Homo sapiens: one gene and its partners. The protein of the gene in region 3 purifies or fractionates together with the protein of the main gene of each other region. This does not show direct contact. Each region holds a gene or a part of one and is shown on either strand. Other genes may lie near its edges. The genes, in order: PLS1, PPM1B, CRHBP, ERGIC2, PRR4, TUBB1 and UBR2.

What was found.
Region 1: the proteins of CRHBP (region 3) and PLS1 purify together in Homo sapiens (affinity purification with mass spectrometry; 3 studies listed by BioGRID and IntAct, with this or other methods). This does not show direct contact.
Region 2: the proteins of CRHBP (region 3) and PPM1B purify together in Homo sapiens (co-immunoprecipitation; one large-scale study listed by IntAct). This does not show direct contact.
Region 4: the proteins of CRHBP (region 3) and ERGIC2 purify together in Homo sapiens (affinity purification with mass spectrometry; one large-scale study listed by BioGRID and IntAct). This does not show direct contact.
Region 5: the proteins of CRHBP (region 3) and PRR4 purify together in Homo sapiens (co-immunoprecipitation; one large-scale study listed by IntAct). This does not show direct contact.
Region 6: the proteins of CRHBP (region 3) and TUBB1 purify together in Homo sapiens (affinity purification with mass spectrometry; 3 studies listed by BioGRID and IntAct, with this or other methods). This does not show direct contact.
Region 7: the proteins of CRHBP (region 3) and UBR2 purify together in Homo sapiens (co-immunoprecipitation; 2 studies listed by BioGRID and IntAct, with this or other methods). This does not show direct contact.

The regions. Positions count from the first base shown.
Region 1 is NC_000003.12:142,669,393-142,672,892, forward strand, and holds part of PLS1 (plastin-1), read left to right. Parts: coding exon 1-161; intron 162-1,600; coding exon 1,601-1,730; intron 1,731-3,500. UniProt on the Homo sapiens protein: Actin-bundling protein. In the inner ear, it is required for stereocilia formation. Mediates liquid packing of actin filaments that is necessary for stereocilia to grow to their proper dimensions.
Region 2 is NC_000002.12:44,227,875-44,231,972, reverse strand, and holds the end of PPM1B (protein phosphatase 1B), read right to left. Parts: intron 1,981-4,098; coding exon of another isoform or gene 1,972-1,980; exon of another isoform or gene 1,561-1,971; coding exon 1,255-1,560; 3' UTR 501-1,254; downstream 1-500.
Region 3 is NC_000005.10:76,963,045-76,966,507, reverse strand, and holds part of CRHBP (corticotropin-releasing factor-binding protein), read right to left. Parts: intron 3,166-3,463; coding exon 3,048-3,165; intron 1-3,047. UniProt on the Homo sapiens protein: Binds CRF and inactivates it. May prevent inappropriate pituitary-adrenal stimulation in pregnancy.
Region 4 is NC_000012.12:29,340,013-29,343,172, reverse strand, and holds part of ERGIC2 (endoplasmic reticulum-Golgi intermediate compartment protein 2), read left to right. Parts: coding exon 1-53; intron 54-1,356; coding exon 1,357-1,439; intron 1,440-1,954; coding exon 1,955-2,017; 3' UTR 2,018-3,160. UniProt on the Homo sapiens protein: Possible role in transport between endoplasmic reticulum and Golgi.
Region 5 is NC_000012.12:10,846,676-10,850,674, reverse strand, and holds the start of PRR4 (proline-rich protein 4 isoform 2 precursor), read left to right. Parts: upstream 1-1,199; 5' UTR 1,200-1,237; coding exon 1,238-1,301; intron 1,302-2,267; coding exon 2,268-2,303; intron 2,304-3,307; coding exon 3,308-3,612; coding exon of another isoform or gene 3,613-3,630; intron 3,631-3,999.
Region 6 is NC_000020.11:59,024,792-59,027,154, reverse strand, and holds the end of TUBB1 (tubulin beta-1 chain), read right to left. Parts: 3' UTR 501-2,363; downstream 1-500. UniProt on the Homo sapiens protein: Tubulin is the major constituent of microtubules, a cylinder consisting of laterally associated linear protofilaments composed of alpha- and beta-tubulin heterodimers.
Region 7 is NC_000006.12:42,672,029-42,675,528, reverse strand, and holds part of UBR2 (E3 ubiquitin-protein ligase UBR2), read right to left. Parts: intron 1,739-3,500; coding exon 1,642-1,738; intron 1,404-1,641; coding exon 1,336-1,403; intron 1-1,335. UniProt on the Homo sapiens protein: E3 ubiquitin-protein ligase which is a component of the N-end rule pathway.

The DNA of each region.
Region 1 (3,500 bases), on a different chromosome or scaffold from region 3:
TTGACAATAGTGGGTATGTCAGTGACTATGAACTTCAAGACCTGTTTAAGGAAGCAAGCCTTCCTCTGCCTGGCTACAAGGTGCGCGAGATTGTGGAGAAAATTCTATCAGTTGCTGACAGCAACAAAGATGGCAAAATCAGTTTTGAAGAGTTTGTGTCAGTAAGTAATCTAATCCTTTCGGGCTACTGATAATCTTGCTTAGAGCAGAATTGTAGTAATGTCATCACTAGCTTTGGTTAAATCCAGCTTCAGAGACCAGAAAAAGGACTGCTTTAAAATGATGATGATGATGATGACAATAACTATTATTATCGAAATAATTTCCACAACTAATTCATAAAACAAAGGAAAAAATTATTCTCAAATTGTTGGAATGGAAATCAGGTTTAGATAATAGTAATTCATTCCCTAGAATAACTAGGTGAGTTCAATGCTTATTGACCATTAATATAATTGAATAAATATTTATGAAATATAAATTGTCTGGTTTTGCATTCTTTATTGATTAAGCAGGTATTTTAGCTCTTCTCTTCCTAGAAATTTTGCTAGGCACTGTGAGTAATGTGATGAGTAAAAAGAAACGTGATTCCTGTCTTCATGGAGTTTATATGTGTGGAGAAGACTGCATTGCACAAATTGATAAAAGATAATTGGAGAATTGCTATGACAGAGTGGTACAGGTCCTGTGAGAGTTTGTGGTAGAAGGAATTGAATTTGGAGGCAAGGCTGGATAACCCAGGGACTCAGGGAAGGTATCCCTACAGTGTGAAGACTGTGATGTGTTCTGAAGAAAGATGTTAAACAGATAAAAGTGGGTTGTGGGAAAATGAATAATGTAGGAGGCAGGTAGACATGACAGCATGTGTAGAGTCCCTGTGGCTTTAGAGATGGTGAATATTCTCAAGCAACTGAAAGAAGGTTTGTGTGACTGGAGCTGAGATGGTAAGGGTAAGGAATGTAGCTGGAGAAGTAACTCAGAATCAGGTCACACAGGGCCATGTCGAATTTTTGTTTTTATCCTAAAAGCAATAGGAAGACAATGAAGTGGGAAGAATAGAATGTGAAGTGACAAGATCAGATTTGCATTTAAAAAAAAACCCAATCACTTTGCTGCAAGCAGAACTGATTGAATTGAGTCTTGCCAATCTCTGGTGAGTCCAGTGAGAGAGTGATTGGGAAAGGGAGTTTCTGTAAGCCTATGTTATTTCCTCTAAGAGCTGACTTATTTTATCATGAATGCATTTGAGATGTTCAGGCAGGAAAATATCTTCATTAAGGCATTCTTCTATCTTTAGCATGTAGTTAGTTATTTCTTAGGTTTTCAGTACAAAAGATTATGGCAAGCCAAGAAGAATAATTTCAGTGTGTTCAATTTAAGCTTAGTTATAAAAAATTTATTCCACCGTTTGGGGTTCAAGTATTTGTCTATTTTGTGTTATTGGTAAAATGATGAAAGTTATCTGTGTATACAAGCAATAAGTACAACTGACTAGTATTTAATTTGGTGTCATTTCAAATAAAGAAGTGTAAATAAATATCCATTTTGTCAGGTTTTTATTGATTATCTGATTCTCAATTTTACTTATGTTCCATTCCAGCTAATGCAAGAATTAAAAAGCAAAGATATCAGCAAAACATTCCGAAAAATAATTAACAAGAGGGAAGGGATTACTGCTATTGGAGGAACTTCAACTATTTCCAGTGAGGGCACACAGCATTCTTATTCAGGTAACTGACTTCTCCAAATTTGATCTTTTAGTCACTGATTCATTGATTAAGTGACATATTTAATCAGTTCTAAGATGCCACTCATTGTGATTCATACCGTTATTTTATGTGCCACTGAGGAGAAAAAAATACTGCAGACCACAGTATAACATGCCATTGAATTTGAAATACATCTCAGTTTCACAGATGTCAAAATGAAAAATCCTAGAATCATTGAAATCAATGAGTTCCTGCTGTGTATCAGGCTCAGTCTACAGAAACAAGATTATAAACAACAAAGTGGAAGTTGTTTATACTCCAGCATTAGATGTATTTAAAAGTGGCTTTTCAATGGCTTTTCATCCTGACTGATGAGGTGGCTTTACTTTTAGACCTGAGCTAGGAATGGGGGAGAGGCTTCTATCACAAGGATTTTTCTCTTCCATTTTCTGAGATCTGAGATACCCGATTCACCTTTTATCTAGTAACCAAGTGACTAGAGAGCATAGCACCTGATTTGCTTGATCTGATTAAACCACTGGACCATTGCCCAGTGGGAAATGCAGAAGCATATCAACTTTTAAGATGAGGTGTCTTCCCCGTGTTAAGTTATCTAAGATGTCTAAGAACCTTTGGCCAAGTTCTTTTTATTTATATGAACATAACTAGAACTATGCTTTTTGGCCTTTTGACAAAATTACCTGTAACCTTTTCCCCTCTTTCTTCATTTCAGATCTGAATCTGTTAATTATCCTCTTGATTCTGTCCCTTCCTAATTGGATTTTCCTCTAGCGATACACTCAAATTTCTCTCATCTATTATATGTTTTTCCTAACTTTTTCCCACTAGGGAAGCAGCCATAAAGGCAAAGGTCCATAACTGTTACCTTCACTTTTTGAAAGGTATTCACCCCTTAACCCAGTTTCTGCCTGTCAATTCTACTGAAGTGGCTTCTTTTTAAAGACAAAAAAAAATTATTAAGGTATAATACACATTCAGCAAAGTGCTATAATCTTAAGTATATGGCTCAATGAATTTTTCCATGTGTATATACATTCATGTAGCTGCCAACCAGAACAAGACATGGAATCTTTTCATCACCTGAAGACTCCCTCATTCCCCTGATAGTAACTATTCTTCCCTAGAGGTAACCTCTTTTCTGATATTTGTCACCATAAATTTTTGTTTACTTATTTTTTGAGGTATAAGATACTTGTAGTAAAGTGCATGAAGTGTACTTTTTTTTTTTTTTTTTTTTTGAGATGGCGTCTCGCTCTGTCGTCCAGGCTGGAGTGCAGTGGTGCGATCTCGGCTCACTGCAAGCTCCACTTCCCAGGTTCACGTCATTCTCTTGCCTCAGCCTCCTGAGTAGCTGGGACTACAGGTGCCCGCCAACACGCCCAGCTAATGTTTTTGTATTTTTAGTAGAGTCAGGGTTTCACCGTGTTAGCCAGGATGGTCTCGATCTCCTGACCTCATGATCCACCCGCCTTGGCCTCCCAAAGTGCTGGGATTACAGGCATGAGCCACCACACCAGGCTGAAGTGTACTATTCTTAAGTATATGGCTTGATGATTTCTTTTAACCTATGAATACACCTATATAACTATTCTCTAGAAAAATATATGGAATATTTAATGGCTTTTATAAAAAATAGCAGCTTTATTGAGATATAATTGACATACCATGGAATACATTTTTAAAGTATACAGTTCAGTAGTTTTTAGTGTATTCATAGTTGTGCAATTGTCATCACTATTTAATTTCAGAACACTTTCATTACACCAAAGA
Region 2 (4,098 bases), on a different chromosome or scaffold from region 3:
ACACATGATATAAATATAAACGTAAAGACGAAAAGTTAATGTTCTACAGTTATAAAATAATTTTTAAAAAATATTTTTCCCTATGTGACAAATCTATAATTTAAAAATCCCTTTAAACAAAAACTCTCATCTGCCACTATTTTAAAAATAGCCCATAATTGTTCAATTTCTTAATAACTAACAAAAATTTGTAACAAAATGGACAATTCTGCAATCTTTAAAATGCTCACTGTGGCAATTTTCTCACATGTCTAATGTGTGCCCATAATGTCCAAAGATTAATATTTTGTACCACAAAAGATGGATAAGAAAAAGAATAGATTTAAGTATGCAACACATATATTTTAATATTAAACTTTTCCTTTTTGTTAATGAAAAAAGGTAAGCCAAAAGTGTTCTAAATGTTATATAAATACAAATGAATTTCTAATGGGTATTCTTCCAATATACCAAACTTGGTTGTTTTTAAAAAATTAATTCAAAAATAAGTACAACATGCATAGATTATTCCACATCACATGCTTTATTTGGACTTAAACACTTATAATTTCATTCTAAACACTTGGTTGACATACATTTTGATGTGTGTAGTTAGGCTATACAGAATATACAAACCAAAGCTGTATGAATAATACATAGGTTTTTCAAAAGTTATGTTTCATAAAGAATACAGAGAAAGGAAAAATAGCCACACATCCAATATCTCACAACTTCTAAAAATAAAACTACAGAGATGTAAAATATAAACAAATCAAACAACACACAAATTATCATCCTTGAAAGAAAAATTACAGGCCAGCATCAGCCATTCTTTGAAGAACTAAAATTATTAAAGAAAACATAAATTTATTACAAAGCTAACTATGAGTGTACTAATAGGTAAAATAATATGAAGCAGTATAATTCTACATTAACAAGTTTTTCCATAATATAGCATAATCTCTCTAATCAAAATTTCTAATTCTATCTAGTATTAATTTAACTACTGACTTTAATTCATAATTGGTAGCCTAATTTCTGGCATACAATGTGAAATGACATATAATTTCATTAAATCCATAGTACTATAAATAGTCAATTTTACACTATCTCATAAAGGTGTATGCAAAGGCCTTTTTAAAAAACAAGGCTATCTGAATATAATAAAACTAGTTTTCCAAGATTCAAATAACAAAACAGTTATATAAATGCATACATTACACTTCCTAGGTTAAAAACCATCAAAGATCACAAAAATATTACCAAAAAGGAAAGTCATATTTTTTCACCACTCATCTTTGTCCCTGCATCTTCATTAGAGCTGTCTAATTCAGCAAGACCACTTTCTGATTCAGTATGGCTTTCCTGCATTGTCACTGGGTTTCCAGCATCACTGTTCGAAGAAGTAGCTGTGGCAGCTGGTTCAGCAGGGCTTTCTTCTCCCTCTACTTTAGCTAGCCTGTAACTAGTCAGCATCTCCTCCAGAAGTTGTCGGTAGTTTCCCCTATGATTAATTCTCATTTGCCTGAGAGCTTCCACCAATTTTCCCTGTGATCCACTTTCCTCTGCTTCATCGGAGGCCTTTTTTTAAGATTCAAGACCCCAGTGTCAGTAGACAAACTAGGATATCACATGTATTTCATAACACATTACAGCAAAATACTAATTTCTCTACCGAAAAGTAATATAGTCTAAGCATGAGAACATTTTATTAAATATCAATTCTTACCTGTATCAATTAATAAAAACTTCCAATAATAATCTCAAGTCATTTTAAGCAAATTACCATTAACTAGTTTATGTCTTATTTCACAGTCATTTAAAGTTTAATCTGAAATTTACTCAGCTTTTATAATTCAACAGCAACACAAGCATTTCCTAAAACTGACTTACTTAAACAATATTTGGCTATATGATTTAGTACAAAAGAAAATCAATGTTTAAAGCAGTAGGAAAAGGACAGAAAAGCAGGCCATCAGAACAGTTTCTTCATCATTTCTGCTAAATAAGTAGGAAATACAAAACATAAAACTATATAGATTTAAACAGATTTTTGAAAGATTTTAGAGTTTTTACGGATAAAAATTGTATTTACTTTTTGCTCTTATTTTGATAAAAACATCTCTAGATAAAAATAAATTAAGTATTCTCAGTATGAATAATAAACTACTCAATCCTTTCATATTTTAGTGAATTTTGGAAAATCTACAGGTTTCTACAATAGTAACTACTTAATACTGTACAGAACAAGCTCTAATCATCCAAGCTGATCACAGTTAAGCCGACAGACTAAAATAAAGATATCTTTACAGTATGTGCCTCTTGATATGATGCATTATAAAGTACAGTCATGTCCTGTATTCGTGCCAAAAAATGTTTAGAATGAATCTAATAATGCTAATTCCCAGTTTACAGGAAAAAAGGGAATAGAGGATCAAGTTAGAGCACACATGAGAAAACAATCATATGAATTCAGAATGCAGGACGTATTGTAAAAAACTGGCTCAGATTCTTCAAAGTCAGTTTCAAGGGGAAAAAAACAGGTGAGGGGCTTGACTGATTAAAGACTTGTTTAATGTGCTTGATTGATAAACTTGATTAGACTGGGATTCAAAATAACAATTACAATAGTCACTCTAGTGACAACTAGGGAAATTTAAACTTGATATTCAATATTATACAATTTATTTTTTTATACACCTACAGTGTACCCACAAAAATTAAAAATAAATTTAAAAAAATGAATTTTCTTAGGTATAATAATGGTATTATGGTTATACAGAAAAATGTCTTCGTTCTTTTTTTTTTTTTGGGATGGAGTTTCACTCTTGTTGCCCAGGCTGGAGGGCAATGGCATGTTCTCGGCTCACCACAACCTCCACCTCGAGGATTTAAGCGATTCTCCTGCCTCAGCCTCCCGAGTAGCTGGGATTACAGGCATGTGACACCATGCCCGGCTAATTTTGTATTTTTAGTAGAGACAGGGTTTCTCCATGTTGGTCAGGCTGGTCTCGAACTCCCAACCTCAGGTGATCTGCCTGCATCGGCCTCCCAAAGTGCTGGGATTACAGGTGTGAGCTACCGTGCCTGGCTGAAAAATATCTTCATTCTTAAGAGCTGCATGCTTAAATGTTTACAGGTAAAATATGATGTCTGCAATTTTCTCTCAAAGGGTTCAGTCAAAGAAAGAAAAAAAACAGTAGATATAAAAAGAAAAATAAAGCAACTATGGCAAAATGTTAACAGTTGTTGAATCTAGAGAGACAATATACAGCTGTTCCAACATATCATATCCCCTTTTTAAATACATTTGGAAGTTTTCATCTTAAAATATTGGGAAAATAAAATACAAAATAGGTTATTGATACAGTTGATGTGACACAAACTCTTAACCATCTTTAGAGACTATTACATATACTTTTGCAACAAAGATAACACTAATAAAGCCATATAATAAATGGCAATGTTTTATTAGAAAAATGAGAGCAGATGAATGTTATTTTTTAAAAAGTTGCCCTCATTGGCCAGGAGCAGTGACTCGTGTATGCAATTTCACCACTTTGGGAGACGGGTAGGAGGATTCCTTGAGGTCAGGAGTTCTAGGCCAGCCTGGGAAACACAATGAGACCCTATCTCTACAAAAAATGTTTAAAAGGAACACGCCCATAGTCCCAACTACTTGGGGAACTGAGGCGAGAGGTTGAGCTAAGTCGAGGAGGTTGAGGCTTCAGTGACCCATGACCATACCAATGAACACCAGTCTGAACGACAGAGTGAGACCCTCTTAAAAAAAAAAAAAAAAAAAAGGGCTTGTTAGGCTGAGGCGGGTGGATCACGAGGTCAGGAATTCAAGACCAGCCTGGCCAAGATGGTGAAACCCTATCTCTACTAAAAATACAAAAAATTAGCAGCACGCAGTGGCAAGTGCCTGCAATCCCAGCTACTCCGGGAGGCTGAGGCAGGAGAATCGCTTGAACTCGGAGGGCGGAGGTTGCAGTGACCCGAGATCGCACCACTGCACTCCAGCCTGGGTGACAAAGTGAGACTCTATCTCAAAAAAAAAAAAAAAAAGAAAAGAAAAAGAAAAAAAAAGTGCTTGTTTTCCTGCCTCAGACGGGG
Region 3 (3,463 bases):
GACGGATCAAAGGCTAGTCTCCCTACAACCCTCCCCTTCCACCACATCTCACAAGGAAAGGGAGAGTGCCTTGTACTGGCCGTGGAACAAGCATGGGCTATCTCTTCATCTGCATAGGGTGCCAATTCACCTCAGCCTTTACCCACAAACCAAATCCTTCATCCAGATAAAGGGTAATTGATAGGAACCTCAAAAGGAGCAGTGGCTCACACCTGTAATCCCAGCACTTTGGGAGGCCGAGGTGGGCAGATCACCTGAGGTCAGGAGTTCGAGACCAGCCTGACCAACATGGAGAAACCCCATCTCTACTAAAAATACAAAATTAGCCAGGCGTGGTGGCACATGCCTGTAATCCCAGCTACTCGGGAGGCAGAGGCAGGAGAATCACTTGAACCCAATAGGTGGAGGTTGCGGTGAGCCGAGATCGCACCATTGCACTCCAGCCTGGGCAACAAGAGTGAAACTCCATCTCAAAACAAAAGAAAGGAGTACTTGAAACCCAGAAAACTTTTGTAACCGGGCCCTTGAGCCGCTCGCTAGGGTCCACTCCCACCCTGCGGAGTGCTTTCTCCCTTTAATACATCCCTGCTTCGGCTACTTTGTTCCTGTGTTTCATTCCTTTGTTACTTTGTGCGTTTTGTCCAATTCTTTGTTCAAAACGCCAAGAACCTGGACAACTTACACTCAAGGCCCTCCTTCCAGTAACGGAATAAAGTCTAAAATGAACCAAAGAGTGATATAATTCAAGCCTTAAAATTGTCTTAAAAGTGGTTTCAGTTACCTAGGTAATGTAGGCAAAAGTGGTTTTCTGGCTTTAGAATCACCTTTTTTTCTAATTCAAGTTATATCACTCAAGCGGAAAAATGACTTTGGCTTCAATTATCTAAATTGTAAGGCCTGATTGTTCTTTAATCCTTGTCTTACTTTTTAACCCAGCTGAGGTATATCTCCTCAAAGGTGCTCTCCAATCATGAGCATGGAAGTACTTTAGTGCCTCAGATCATGCACCCAAAAGGCTAAAGAAGCCGCATGCACTGACAGTTTAAACCATGGCTCAAGTGTCAATTAGCATTAGAGAATCCTCTAGTTTTCCGCAAAGTGGGATTTTGGAAATCTTTTGCCTTTACCTTGATTAGAAAGCTTGCTTTGAGCCCACTCCTACCTTAAATCTCATCTGAAACTTTTAGAATATAGGTGTATCTGGGGGAGGGTGGAGTGCATATCAGGCTTTAGTGCTGACTTTTGTATAATTCATCCTTTGGTATCCTCAGGAGATTGGTTCCAAGATGCTCCCCATCCCACGGATACCAAAATCCACAGATGTTCAAGTCCCTTATGTAAATGGCTACCTTTTACCTTTACCTATTTCCATGTAAACTACACACATCCTCCCATATACTTTAAATCATCTGTAGATTACCTATAGTACCTAATACAATGTAAAAGCTATGTAAATAGTTGTTATACTGTATTTTTTTGTGTGTTTTTTTTTTACCTGATTCTTTTCTTTTTTTTTATTTTATGGGGTGTGGTCTTGCCATGTTGCCCAGGCTGGTCTCAAACTGCTGGGCTCAAGCGATCCTCCTGCGTCAGCCTCCCAAAGTTCAGGAATTACACTGAATATATATATATTTTTTGAGACAGAATCTCACTCTGTCTAGTCTCGCTCTGTCATCCAGGCTGGAGTGCAGTGGCACAATCTCAGCTCACTGTAACCACCACTGCCCGGGTTCAAGCAATTCTCCTGCTTCAGCCTCCTAAGTACCTGGGACTACAGGTGTGCACCACGATGCCTGGCTAATTTTTTTATATTTTTAGTAGAGACGGGGGTTTCACCATATTGGCCACGCTGGTCTCGAACTCCTGACCTCAGTAATCTGCCCGCTTCGGCCTCCCAAAGTGCTGTGATTACAGGCGTGAGACACCGCGCCTAGCCTACGCTGAATATTTTCTATTACAATTGGTTGAATCTGTGTATGGGGAACCCACAGTTAAGAAGGGCTGACTGTATGTTAATTCTATTTTGGAGATGTTTTGTCCATCATCAACTCAGAGTCAGAAAATACTGGTGGTCTGGCCTGGTTTTAATTATTACAGGTAACAGCTGATCAAGAGGACTGTCTGCTTTGCAGCTTCATTGCCTAGCTGGTTAATGATCTGCAGTGACAGGAGAGGAAGGAGGCTACAGTAAGAATTAACTGAGATTAGAGACTGCTGTTCTTCTTCTGTTTTGTCTCGTTAATGTTAATCTAGGACTCCTGTGTCTGAAGTAAAGCTATGGGAGTGACCTTTACAGGAATGTTTTATGACTCCTCTCCCCCACCTCCCCGAGACTTCATTGAGTTATCTGGTCATGAGGTCATGAAGTCCCATCCATCCTCACCTGACATGAGCATAAAAAAGTGAAAATACTCACTTGTCTCTGACATAGATCTGGTTCTATTTGGCATATGCTGTGCCAAATAAACCAGTCTTCTATTACTGGTGACCGCTTTTAGATTTCAGAATTTACCTCTGTGTTACACTGGCCTTTGAGAGGCTAGTTTAGCCATAAGAAGTTATAGACTTAGCAGTTCTAAGAATTTCTAATAAAGCTTATCACTTTGTTGTTTATTTACTATGAGTAACACACACACATACATACACATACATAAAAAACAGTTATTTCATTATTATCCTATTACTAATTGATGATACATCTACTATTTGAACCATAAGTGTTTCAGTTAGTAAACTCTTTAGTCTCTAGAAAATGAAAGCAGAGACCCCCAAGAAAATGGAAAGAATGCAGATTTTAAAAGCTTTGTCTTTTTCATAGTTTTACTTAAGGCCAACCTTTATTGCTTCAAAGGTTTCTCTCCCAGTGTCGGATATTTTGGTAAAGATACTGATGTTATATATAGCCTCAAATCCTCATACTGGCTCAGTGTGAAAAATTGAAGGCTTTTTTGGCGAAACTCACCTTCCAATGTAGAAAATATTAGGGGAGTGCTTATTTTTTTTTAATCTTGATAGGCACATACATAACAATCAAAGAAATACCTCACCCGGGCCATGAAAGGGGTAGCAGAGATCAGCTAAAGGCGTCATCTTGGAAGGGTCCAATCCAGTTCCTCCCAGCAGCTCCACAAAGTCTCCTATTCCCTCGCAACCTGCTGAGGATTTCTAAGGGAATAAAGCAGCAGAGAAAGACACATTTAAACCAATTACAGAAGTCAAACCATTTGACCAACAGCGGGTCCATGAATTCACTCAATCAGCCCTCAACATCCTGGCAATACCATTTAATTTAACATCTGGGACTCTGGAAATTAAAAGACATTTAAAAGAGAAAAAATCATAAAAATTGCTTTTCTAAATCAGTTGAGTAATCATTTTTTTTAGAAATGTGTGTACATGTTTTTTTCATTTTTTTTAAGCTCAAGGACTGGAATGATAAAATGGAAATCTGTAAACTCCATAT
Region 4 (3,160 bases), on a different chromosome or scaffold from region 3:
GCAGTTTTTTGTAAGACTCTGTGGTATTGTTGGAGGAATCTTTTCAACAACAGGTTAACAACCATTTCCTTTTTGTCTAATTTCTGAAAGTGTTGCTTATACTTAAGTTGCTTCTTCTCAAAGGGGCAAGAAGTATACAGATTTTCATGTTTCGGTGTTTAAATAGCTTTTGCTTTAATTACAAAACTCCAAAATTATATTGACTAACCAGTAAACATAACTAATTTCATTGTATTCAATGATGTAAGGTAGATTATATAATGGTGAGTTGGAAAGATCCTGGGTGTTAACATCAGATTGAAGTAGAATTGAATGTAAGTTCTGTCATTTACTTGGTGGTAGCTTGGAATAGATCACCTACCTTTTCTGAGGTTTTCTAATCAGTAAAAATAGCAATAATAATACCTAATTTGCAAGTGTGCTATAGGATTAAATATGAAAATGCCTAGAAGGCATTTAAGACATTTTTAACTGTACAGTATGTAAAATCATATGTTATAGTACTTTGAATTATGCAATACATGAAACTAGATTTGTAATCAGTAACATGTTTATGATTTTTGTCCTGAGATCCTGGAATTCGCTAAGATTATTTGTCGAATTGTAATGATGAAAATTGGGAGTTAAGTACAATAGAGAAAAAGGAAACAATTCTATTTTCATCTTCAGTCCTTATTCAGTATTAGATGGAGCTGGGTAGTTTATTATACTTAGAATCATATTTTTAAATGAATGAATAGCTTTTCTTTCGAAATTCTTTGTTAGTGCTTCATTTCAATCTATTTAAATTTGTGTTGTTGACATCATTTATTTTCCAAAATTGTATTGGTGTGGGAAAACCTTGAAAAGATTGTGTTTAGGCCCGGTGCAGTGGCTCATGCCTATAATCCCAACACTTTGGGAGGCCAAGGCTGGCGGATCAACTTGAGGCCAGAAGTTCCAGATCAGCCTGGCCAACATGGCTAAACCCCGTCTCTACTGAAAATATAAAAAATTAGCCGGGCATGGTGGTACATGCCTGTAATCCCAGCTAATTGGGAGGCTGAAGCACAAGAATTGCTTGAGCTGGGAGGTGGAGGTTGCAGTGAGCCAAGATTGCACCACTGCACTCCAGCCTGGGCAACAGAGTGAGACGTCTCAAAAAAAAAAAGATTGTGCTGAGATCGTGAATTATGTGGCCTTGTGACTTTGAAAAGAAATCCATTTGTTTTAAAATCTTTCTTGATTATTTTTAACCATGGAAGTGAATAATGCAAACTGCTTTGTTTTCTTCCGTAATCTATTCCATTATAGTTATTTATTCTTAAATAACAGTTTAGGAAATAATTAAAAGCATAAACTTATTGTTTATTACAGGCATGTTACATGGAATTGGAAAATTTATAGTTGAAATAATTTGCTGTCGTTTCAGACTTGGATCCTATAAACCTGTCAATTCTGTAAGTGGTGTAGTATACATGGTGCTGATCTCTAAATCTTAGAATCATTGTTAAGTCTATGAGCCAGTCATGGTGGCTCACACCTGTAATCCCAAGACTTTGGGAGGCTAAGGCGGGAGGATCGCTTGAGCCCAGGAGTTTGAGACCAGTCAAGGCAACATAGTGAGAGCCCCATTTCTACAAAAGATAGAAAAAATTAGCTAGGCAAGGTGGTGCAAGCCTGTAGTCCCAGCTACTTGGGAGGGCACAGTGGGAGGATCACTTGAGCCCAGGAAGTTGAGGTTGTAGTGAGCTATGATCGTACGTACCACTGCACTCCAGCCTGGGTGACAGAGCAGACCCTGCCTCAAAAAAGATAGAGATAGAGAGATAGAGAAATAGGGGGAGAGAGAGAGAGAAATAGTAGCTTTTGGTTACTAGAAAGGATTGCCCAAAATAAAACCTTGTGTTTAGAGGAAAGAGTATAAGGAATAAAACTAATTCTTTGGTCTTTTTTTCCCTCCTTTTCTCCTTAGGTTCCTTTTGAGGATGGCCACACAGACAACCACTTACCTCTTTTAGAAAATAATACACATTAACACCTCCCGATTGAAGGAGAAAAACTTTTTGCCTGAGACATAAAACCTTTTTTTAATAATAAAATATTGTGCAATATATTCAAAGAAAAGAAAACACAAATAAGCAGAAAACATACTTATTTTAAAAAAGAAAAAAAAGGATAAAAAAACCCAAACTGAAATTCTATATACGTTGTGTCTGTTACAAATGTCGTAGAAGAAATCATGCAGCTAAACGATGAAGAAGCCCAACTGGAGTGTTGCTTTGAAGATGACGCCTTCTTATATTTTCATAGCAAATGGGTGGTATCAAAATCAGACATTGCTTCTTGCTGATAAAAAGCCTGAAGGAAATAAGTGAAACTACATCTATGGGAAAAAAAAAAACATTGAGAAGTGCAAATGTTCGCATCCTTTTGTTTTTAAAAGATATGATGTCAGAATAAAATGTGGAAAACATACGGAAAACTAGTCTAGACTTTAAAGAATTGTGATCAGGTCACATTGTTAATAAAAAAAAAAAACGGGCTAGTCCCTATGTTATAGCCATATTAATGTTAAGCCATATTGACAAGACCAGTTATCCAATAATTTGGTCTTAAAAAGTAACTACTTTTCTTTGAACTCTGGTTATTGACTTATCTAACTGTTGAAGATAGAGTCTTAGAAGACTAAGGTAAATTCTCACAGGGGCAGATATGTAGGTGTTATGTAACTAGGGTGTCATTCACAAATGGTATAGTAGAATCTTATACACGGAAAAGAAAGCACATTTTTTTAAAAAAGATGCCAAGTTTTTTAATCTAATCATTATATTATTGGTGTATTTTGGGCAACATAGGGTGAGTTATAAAAAGATCCGCTACTGATAGTGAAAATTACCGGTTTGTAAAACATTAAGAGAAAAAATAGGATATTTTATACATGTGGTGAGTGGAGAACAGGGTAACTTTAAATGAAAGTGTAAGGCAAATTGTAAGCACCACAAGATATATCAGATTTGAGAGGTGCCATGTTAAACATTGTCCATTAAACTATAAAACTGTATTATGAAGTATTTGCATTCAGGGTGTCCTGAATATGATTGATTCTGTATTAGATTGTGTTCTAACTTTCTTACTATTTAAGGATTGGTTCTAAATCTTCACATTATAAAAGATTAAA
Region 5 (3,999 bases), on a different chromosome or scaffold from region 3:
AGAAGAAAGCAAGCAAAGAGAAGTACAGAACCTTGTTTAGAAAATCAAATAAAGATTTCTCCCAGAACGCATGAAGAAAGCAGTAAGATATAAAACATAGACATAGGGAGGATTGATTCACAATATAACATATCAACAAGTAAGGTTCAGCACAAGAGTGAAGAAGAATGAGTATAAGAATATTGCAGAGAAAATAATCTTTGGTAAAGGCAATCTGAGAAGCAAATAGAATGGAAACTAATTAAAAAATAGAAAATCAATGTAATACTTGAGGCTTTCAACAGGCTATCATACTATCTAATTAGATTGTATTATTGTGTCCACTCAATAACCAGTGTGATTAAAATATTTGGTACAAGAAGTAAGACCTAAACTGAATCATATAGAACATTCTAGAAAAGAGAAAGATCATGGAAGAAGTCTTAGGGACATAAAATAGCATGGCTTGTTCAAGGAACTGTGTATTCACACTGTTCTGATGCAGAAATCTAATGGTGCTTTCTGTGGCCAATTTTGCCTTACTAACCTCCAGGGTATTAATAAAGATAGAATGTTTTAATACCTGTGTTCTACAACAATAAAGTATCTCTGGTTAATGCTAGATTAGGAGAATCTTAATCTCTTTGGGCCAGAGTAGCCTGAGGGTAAAACTTCTGTCATCCACGTGTGCCCAAGTGTGTGTTGTCCTCACACAACTCAACATTAAACAGAAATGATCTCTATATTATTATGAAATTAAGCTACATATCATCCATATAGGTATATATGCTATAAAAATGGAATTTATGCTACACTAATAGCTAGAGATATTAATCATTTTCACTTCTGGCTATAAGATCACTGCTGACAAACATATACAAACGTAAGCACGTGTGCACACAGACAACCAATGAAGGGGAAAGACTAACTGTCTAACCCAATTGAAAATCAAATGATGACCAAACTTCAATTGTAGTATTTGTGCTGATTGCTTGGATACTGTTTCTTCAGAAACTATGCTCAAGTCACAGTTTGTACCTAACCACATCCTACCACCACATCCTGCTGGGCTAAAATCCCAAAAAGTAATAAGAGACGCATTCAACTTTATGAGAGGAAAGCAAAACCTAATCTTTCAGGTGGTGAGGTCCACCCAGTATGGAGCTCAAAGGTGCCATTGTTCTGCTCATGTTTATAAAGGGAGCTGCCATGTTTCTCTCAACGCAGAGTTGGGAGCAACTCCAGAGCCTCCTTCAAGATGCTGCTGGTCCTGCTCTCAGTGGTCCTTCTGGCTCTGAGCTCAGCTCAGAGCACAGATAATGGTAAAAAAATTATTTTTTTAAAAAAGGAGATGGGGAGTGGGATGAGGGGCCATGACTCTTCTAGGGCCTCAGGGGTTCACCCTACACCACTGCAGCGGAAGAGCAGGAGGGGAGGAAGGAGGTTGAGAAGAAGGGTAGGGCTTTGGAGCTCTCATTCCAAGGATGACATCTGTTGTGCCCTCATTCCATGCCAAGGCCTTATACTTTATTTGATATACACTTGGAACCCAATAGAGAATTTCAATTAGAGGAATGACAAAGTAAGATTTGTATTTTTAGAAAGACCTGGCTGTGCTGTGAAGGATGCAGTGGAGAATGCAAGACTGATCCAGGGAAGTCCAGCTATGAAGATGCTACAGTAATCTCAGTGGACAGCGATGATGGTGTCCTTGCTGTACAGGGGATGCAGAATCAATGAAAGAGATAAACAAACATCAGAGTACTGTCAGACATAGAGGACTGGATAATACATTTGTGTCTTTCTACATAGTGGTATAGAAATATCAGGTCCCCAAATTCCCATTTTTCTTCCAATCACATTTAAAATTTCAATATGTTGCAGGCAGCATGTGTAAGATTATATCCAAATATTTACTCCTGGTTGCTCCTCTTGGGCAAGCTTGTGAATATGATCAAAATATTTAAAGAAGGAAGAAGGTAAAGATCTAAAATATGACATGAAAATACCCAGAGAAGTGTGCCTAAATTAGCATTAGGGTTTGAGGGATCCTAAGGATGACAAAAAGGGACTCTTCTATTGAATTCGTGGTTGATGCTCAGCGATAGTAACAATCCTGCCTCCCCTAACATCTTCCTCCCCTTCCAGCAGCTTCACAGAACATGGTTGATGAGGTAACTTAGGGGATGCACAGGGTGTGGCCAGAAGACCCCTTTCCCTATAGACCACTATGAGCCCTGAAAGATTTATGAGGTAATGTTCACTTCATCCTGTGCTTCTTTTCCTAGATGTGAACTATGAAGACTTTACTTTCACCATACCAGGTAAATCCCAATGATCCTCAATCCAATTCTTTTCTTTCTTTTTCCACTAGAATTTCTTTTTAGTTTCCTTCAGTGTCTTCTTCTCATCATTTTTTTGGGAGGAGGTGGTAAGAGGGGTCAGGCATTGATTAATATTAGTGCCCCTAAATATATAGGCAATTCTTACCCATCTTTGATTCTGGGGACCATGAGCCAGGCCACCAACTTGAATACAGAGATGCCTGGCTTTGAGGACAATAGGAGTGGGCAGGCTTTTTTCCCAGGCTGGAATGACTGCTGAGAGATGATGAACAAATGAGAAGTGTTCTCATTCTGACTCCTCCATCCTTAACTGCTTCTTTCTTCCCCCAGTGTTCCCCCGCACGGTTATGTGGCTTCAGGGAGTAACACAAAACAAAACAAAAAAATCACTGCATGAATGTCTTTTCTCTGTGTTGACCCACTCAGCTGTGTCACTACAGATGATAAATAGTTGCCACAGCTGTTTAGTGATCATGTGCAGGCTTTCACATTGTCTTTCTCTTCTGTCTCTTAGTATTTCTCTACTTGGTTCCAGGAGCCTGGGAAATCAGCTCTAGTTTCCACATAGGGCTTAGGTGCCCAGAGATGGAGTCACAGTTTGTAAGTCATTACAGCAACCAAAAAATAAAAATAAAAAATAACCAGTAACATAACTGAAAGCTATAATGCTTTTGCTTTTTTTTTTTTTTCTGTCCTTGGAGACATCCTCTGGCAACTCTAAGATATGCAAGAACCCCTCTTTTCATTTAAGGAAACATACTTGTCACAGGAGCAAATAAATGAGACTTTCCATATCACTCTTACATGGATTAAGTTGAGAGCTGCATAAAAAGAAAAAAAAAACAGTGGGCACAAAAGAAGTTGACAGTCAAGCAGCAGGTTTGGGGAGAACAGGGCTGTGTGGTAAGGTGAGAGAAGTATAAAGAGAGGAGAGTTTTTCTTCACTGAGCTCATGCATTCTTGTCCATTAATTACTCACACAGATGTAGAGGACTCAAGTCAGAGACCAGATCAGGGACCCCAGAGACCTCCTCCTGAAGGACTCCTACCTAGACCCCCTGGTGATAGTGGTAACCAAGATGATGGTCCTCAGCAGAGACCACCAAAACCAGGAGGCCATCACCGCCATCCTCCCCCACCTCCTTTTCAAAATCAGCAACGACCACCCCGACGAGGACACCGTCAACTCTCTCTACCCCGATTTCCTTCTGTCAGCCTGCAGGAAGCATCATCATTCTTCCAGAGGGACAGACCAGCAAGACATCCCCAGGAGCAACCACTCTGGTAATCTAGAATTCAGTGGCAGGTATGATTCCAGTTCATTCTCCATTAAATGCCCAAACTGCTACCATTCCCAAACTTTATCGTGTTCACAAATCAATTGGAAATATGTTGAAATTACATAATCCTGGACCCCATTTCTAAAGATTTGTATTCAGATATTCTTGGATAAGGTTGCAAGTCCTTGTATTTTTAACAAGTGGTTCAAAGAATTCTTATCTTTTGAAATACTGACCTCCCCAACTTTTTTCTTAAGATGACTTGTCTCATTAAAATGAGTTGGTAATGAGGAAGTGGGGTGTGCTCTCCCTTTGGTGCTCTGCCTCCTGTCTTTGAGTCTGCCTTCTCAAACCCAAGGACTCTCCATCTCAGGTTTCTCTCAGGTTTCCGCCAG
Region 6 (2,363 bases), on a different chromosome or scaffold from region 3:
CTTGTGATATGGAAAGGAGTGAAGTCACTGAGTAAAAGACAAGTTTACTGTCAGCAGAGATTCTTAGAGGCTCTTTTCTCCGTGATTAAAAAAAAATCCTAAACCAGTAGTATAATAAACTTCCTGCCTCCAGCAGTGCTGGGTAGCTGGCAGGATGACTGTGCCCAGTGATGAGGTGACCCCAGTCAGACCAACTTAATGAGTATCCCACTAATTAGTTGGATGATGTTTGAAGCTGTCAGTTAATCTCTTAGTTCACATCGTTCTTGTGAGCAAAGTGAAGGAATCGGATAAGCTCTAAATTTCGGTGATGCTGCTGCTCTGAGAGACCAAGGTCGCTGGAGCAACCGTACTGCTAAAGGATAAGCTCTTCAAAATCAAAAGGGACAGATTTCTTAAGTTTCTAGTTTGTTTTGTGTTTTTACATCTATTTCTACCATACGAAAGAGTAGGATGGTGAGATGCATTTCTAAATATTTTTAACTACTCAGTCTGGATGGTTAGGCTTCAAGAAAAGGAATTTATTTAGTCTGAAATAAAGCAATTTTGCCATTTAAAATTGAATTACTTTGTAGTTTAATGATTACTATTGAGCAAACAAATCTTTACAGTAATATAAGTCAGCAAAAGTTTTTTAAAAGGTTTAAATCCCTCCTTCCTTACATCTATTTCATTGCTTTTTTAGGTTTGGGAAGTAAAGCACCAGAGGAAGCATGTGTAAATCCTTGTATAATCGCAGGCTGTAAGTCTTTAGCATCTCAGGAAGTTACTAACTTCAAACTAAGTATATAGGTAGAGTTTCTTACTAAATCTAGTGCTTCTTGAACCACAAGTAGAAAGCATTTAAAACATGAATGTTGTTTTGTGTTTTTTGAAGTTTGTAAATAGAAGACTTGTTGATGATCCGATGGCAAGGTATTTTTCTCTTGGTATGTATTTTAGTTATTTCCTCGTGATGCATAAGTGAAAAGAGTGAAGTTTCTCAGAATGAGCAACTGTCATCCATCTACCTGCTATTTTATTATTGCTGATTACAAAAGCAAATCAAGAGATGAGAACCCAGTTGCCTGCAAGTAAATATTTACTGCATTGAGGGTCGGAGCATTTTCCCATTACCGGTTATCCATGGATCAAATAGTGTATCTCAGTGGTAATTCTAGAGGGCCATTAAAACCCTGATGGTGCTGGAAGAGATGGCAGTGCTGCATGTCAGAAATAGGTAAACTGTAATTAAGAAGTTACAGATGATTTGATTACGCTCTTGTGTATTTGGTCCTGTTATAATGTGAGCAGATTAAAATCATGTAGTGCTTAAAGCTATGTCATTATGCAAACATTTATGGCAACTTCTGCAAATTAATTTGAACTGTAAAAGTTCCCTAATGAGACGATGTCCTCCATAACTGAGAAGGACACTGCAGCCATTGCTGCTTAATTCCTGCATTTGAATGGTTGCCGAGCGCATGGTGTGCCCTTTCTCAAAGAGCAGAGAGGCTGCAGAGCATTTTGGGGGGTGATGACTGAATGAAAGTGAAAAGACCATTTCAAAATAGCCTTTAAAAGGAAAGCCAAGGATGATTATTAATGAATTCCTGGGATCTAACAGTAGTAAGAAATTTAAACTATATAAACATATATGTTAAAGGCTAGCTCTTCAGAAATAAAGATCAGAAGACTGCAGTTCTTTAGTTTTGCTTGTCTTTTTGTTTTTCTTGTTTGGACCAGGTATTTTTGTGGAGAGGACTGTGGCTTTTCTTTTTTCCTCTTTTCCAGTTAGCATGTTGTATGCACAGGTCTACACAACATGGATATTTCTAGTGGATGTTGACTCACATTGACCTTGGCTCTGTAGCTCCCCATGTACTAGTCAGGCACCTGGCTCTTCTGGAGGCTGGCAGGCACTGGAAAGCAGGATGCCAGTCAGTGTTTGCTCAGAGGAAAGAACCTAAGGAAAGAGTCTTAGTAGCCCTCGGATACCAAGTGAGGATTCCAGGGTGCCTATCAGTGCTGCTAAAGTATAAAAATGTAACACCAACTCCAGTGGCTCCCTGCAAATCCACACGTGTAGTCTGGATGCCTGGCAAACACTTTGAAACAAAGGGAGCACTTTACAATAAATTTGCTATTTTTTTAAGTTAATAAGTATGCACTGAACATCAAACTCTTCAAGGTTAGTAGATGTCAGCAAAGACCCTAATGCCTGTCAGCTGCTCCCCACCTGTCTCCCTCAGTCCCTGTGTCGAAGCTAATGGTGAGTGCATATCATTCACTGTGCTGCAGTGCAGAGTGGGTTTTGGAGTGCTGCAGGAGAAACACTCATCTAATGAGAAACTGTTCTGTAAGCGACTCCGCGGCACAGCTTC
Region 7 (3,500 bases), on a different chromosome or scaffold from region 3:
ATGATTTCATTAATCCAGTGGGTCCTCTATACATAGCTTATTGTTAACAAAAACAGTATCTGAACTCTCTCCAGGACTGTAGGCAGTTGAAAAAACATGGGTTTTGGACCCATAAATATCTAGATATGAATCCTACCTCCTCCTCTTATGAGCTGTTTTACACAAATTAATATCTCTGATCAGGCCTCAGTTTCCCTATTGGTAAACTAAAGACAATATGTTACATGTAAATTGTAGAGATGTAAGTGTGAACGTATGTAAAAGCTGGCAGGTACACAAATGCTAGCTCTGTTGGCCTCCTGCTGTCTGCATGGCAGTATAAGTGGTGGTGGTTTTAGTTGCAGCAATGAGAACAGTAATAGCCGCATTTATTAGGAATATATTGCTCTAAGTGTGTTACATGGATTAACTCACTGAGTTCTGACATAGTCATATAAAGTAGGTACTAACCAACTTAAAGGGGCAGAATCTGAGGTCCAGAGAATAAAGGCACAGCACTCGGGGCTGCTGGGTGTGGCAGTACACTCTGTACCCTGTGCAAGGGAACCCAGTTGAGGTAGGGCTGAAATTTGGCTACCCACTATTTGGACAGCTGTGTGTCTTAGCACTAGGATGTCCTGGCTCAGAGGACATACCTTTCCCTGAATTATAAGGGGCTCTCTGCTGCTAAGTAGTGTGACCACAGGGCTGTATCTGCCAGATTTTCGAAAATGTACAAAAGCACTGTATGGGCCAGCAGCAGTGCTTCTGTTGCTGTTTTTTTTTTTTTGGATGGGGTCTTGCTCTGTCATCCAGGCTGGAGTGCAGTCATGCAATCTTGGTCACTGCAACCTCCGCCTCCTGGGTTCAAGTGATTCTCCTGTCTCACTTTCCTGAGTAGCTGAGATTACAGGCATGTGCCACCACGCCCAGCTAATTTTTTGTATTTTTAGTAGAGATAGGGTTTCACCATGTTGGCAAGGCTGCTCTCAAACTCCTGACCTCAAGTGATCTGGGGTGAGCCTCGCAAAGTGCTGGGATTACAGGCATGAGTCACCACACCTGACCCGTTGCTGGTGTTTTTATCTCTTTACAGGTTAAAAGCACAGAGAGGTTAAAATACTAACCTCAGCCATAAAGCAAAATAAGAGTCAGAGGACGTCTCGATAACCAGGTCAAGTCTCTCAACTAGGTTCCTAAATATTTTCTTTTTGAGGTTTCTCATAAAAGAATTATACTCAGAAGGGGTAAGGAAATCACATAACTCCTTCCTGTCTGCCACTACACTGCTCACCAAACCTAAGGTAAAGTTACATAGTATGACGTAGAAGTCCAAACAAACTGCACAATACCCACCAATAAATGAAACATGTCAATATCTAATATGCATGGAAGTTCCTCATGGCTGTCATTAGGCACCAGTGCTACAGATTTAAAGAGAAATACATTAGCATATTTCATATGCCAACATGTTAAAATGCATATAATCTGCTTTAAATTTATCTTCTTGCAAGACACATGAGAATTTATAAGCTAGAGCTTATATATAAGAAAACCAGTACTACTAAATATTTAATTCATTACTGAGAGAAGCTGTACCATTAAAAACAAAATTTCAGAGGATGAAAAATTACAACATGTTATAAATGTATTAATACTCACATGCAAAAAGTTTACAAAAATGTCCTTGCACCACTGAAACTGATGCCACTGTCCAGTGTGCTGCGGCAAATCTCGTCAATGACCTAAGACAGTCATCCTAAAATAAACCAACGCAATTAACAAAAAACAAAAATGCAAAGCAGTTCTCTTTCAGGAATGCTAGTTCAGAGCACAGCTGGATGCACAATGAAACTGCTCTAGATGGTATGGAACTAGATCTATGACATCTCAATGACATGCCTCTAACACAGGATAAATGGAATGGGAAATGTCTAAGTGTGTGCTGAATAAATGAAATCTATCTCTTTGCCACCATGTTGCTGGTTTTCTCTGGAAAAGAAAAGAATATAGAATATACGCATCTGACAGAAAGCAAGGGACACTCCCAAGATGCCAGTGCAGGCCGGGTGTGGTGGCTCACACCTGTAATCCCAGCTACTCGAGAGGCTGAGGAAGGAGAATCACTTGAACCCTGGAGGCAGAGGTTGCAGTGAGCTGAGATCACACCACTGCACTCCAGCCTGGAAAACAGAGCGAGACTCTATCTCAAAAAACAAATAAACAAGCCAAGATGCGGATGCAGTATTTCTCTATGTTTATCCTAAACAGATACCCTAAAACACATATCTCTTATGTTTATCCTAAAGAGATCCTCTAAAATGTGGATACTCTTCCGTAAAATGTAGAGTATCCTAAAGAGATACTCCAAATATTGGGGAAACTGTCTAAGAAGATGGTGGTACAAATGAGGGTGCCTGCAGCTATTAAAAATTGTTATGAGGACTAAGTAGCAGTAATAAGAAAACTCTTGATTTAAAGAATACAGCAGAAACAAAGCTACATGTGAGTACCAATTGTAATCAAGCATAAATATGCTAATGGAAAAAGATGGGTATGTGATAAGTTGATGACTTTTTTCTTCCTGCTTGTTTTTTCATTTTCCAAATTTTCTGTAATGTTTGGTTCAATAAATATTGAGGTCCTACTATATACACTAGGTCTTGGTTCTGAAGATCTTCAAATAAAACCCATTCTCCCCCTCCTGCTCTCAAAGAGCTTAAAGTCCTGGGGTGGGAAAGGAAGAAAGTGGGGAAGGAGGCAGGCATCACAGATGAGAGGTCTCTAACTCACAGTACATGGTTCAGAGGGCTTTCTAAGGGAAGGGAAAGCTTGAACAGCATCTGAAAGAGTAGCAGTCTGCTTAGGGTACTCTAGGCAGAGGAAATGGAATGTGCAAAGGCATGGGAACTAGCATTGAGGAACTGGCAGTGATTCTACAAGTCTGGACCACAGGGGTGGGAACTGGCAGGAGGTGATAATGGAGAAATAGGTTAAGAAGTTTGTAAAAGTATGAAGAATATGAACAGGATTGCTTTTGAGGAGCCCCTCTAATAACGTATTAGAGAAGAGTGAGATTCTGGGTAAAAACTGCTATGATAATCTAGGCAAGAAATAATATGGGGCTGAACCAAACAAGTAGAAGAAGGAATGGTGAGAATTTGTCAGACTCTGCTGACCAACTGAATGTGAATGCCCAGGCTAAAAAATGTATCTAGGCCGGGAATGGTGGCTCATGCCTGCAATCTCAGCATTTTGGGAGGCCGAGATGGGCAGATCACCTGAGGTCAGGAGTTTGAGACCAGCCTGGCCAACATGGTGAAACCCCATCTCTACTAAAAACGCAAAAATTAGCTGGGCACGGTGGCATGCACCTGTAATCCCAGCTACTCGGGAGGCTGAGACAGGAGAGTCGCTTGAACCCAGGATGCAGAGGCTGCAGTGGGCCGAGATTGTGCCATTGCACTCCAGTCTGAGCAACAGAGTGAGACTCCATCTCAAAAAAAAAAGACTTCAATTTT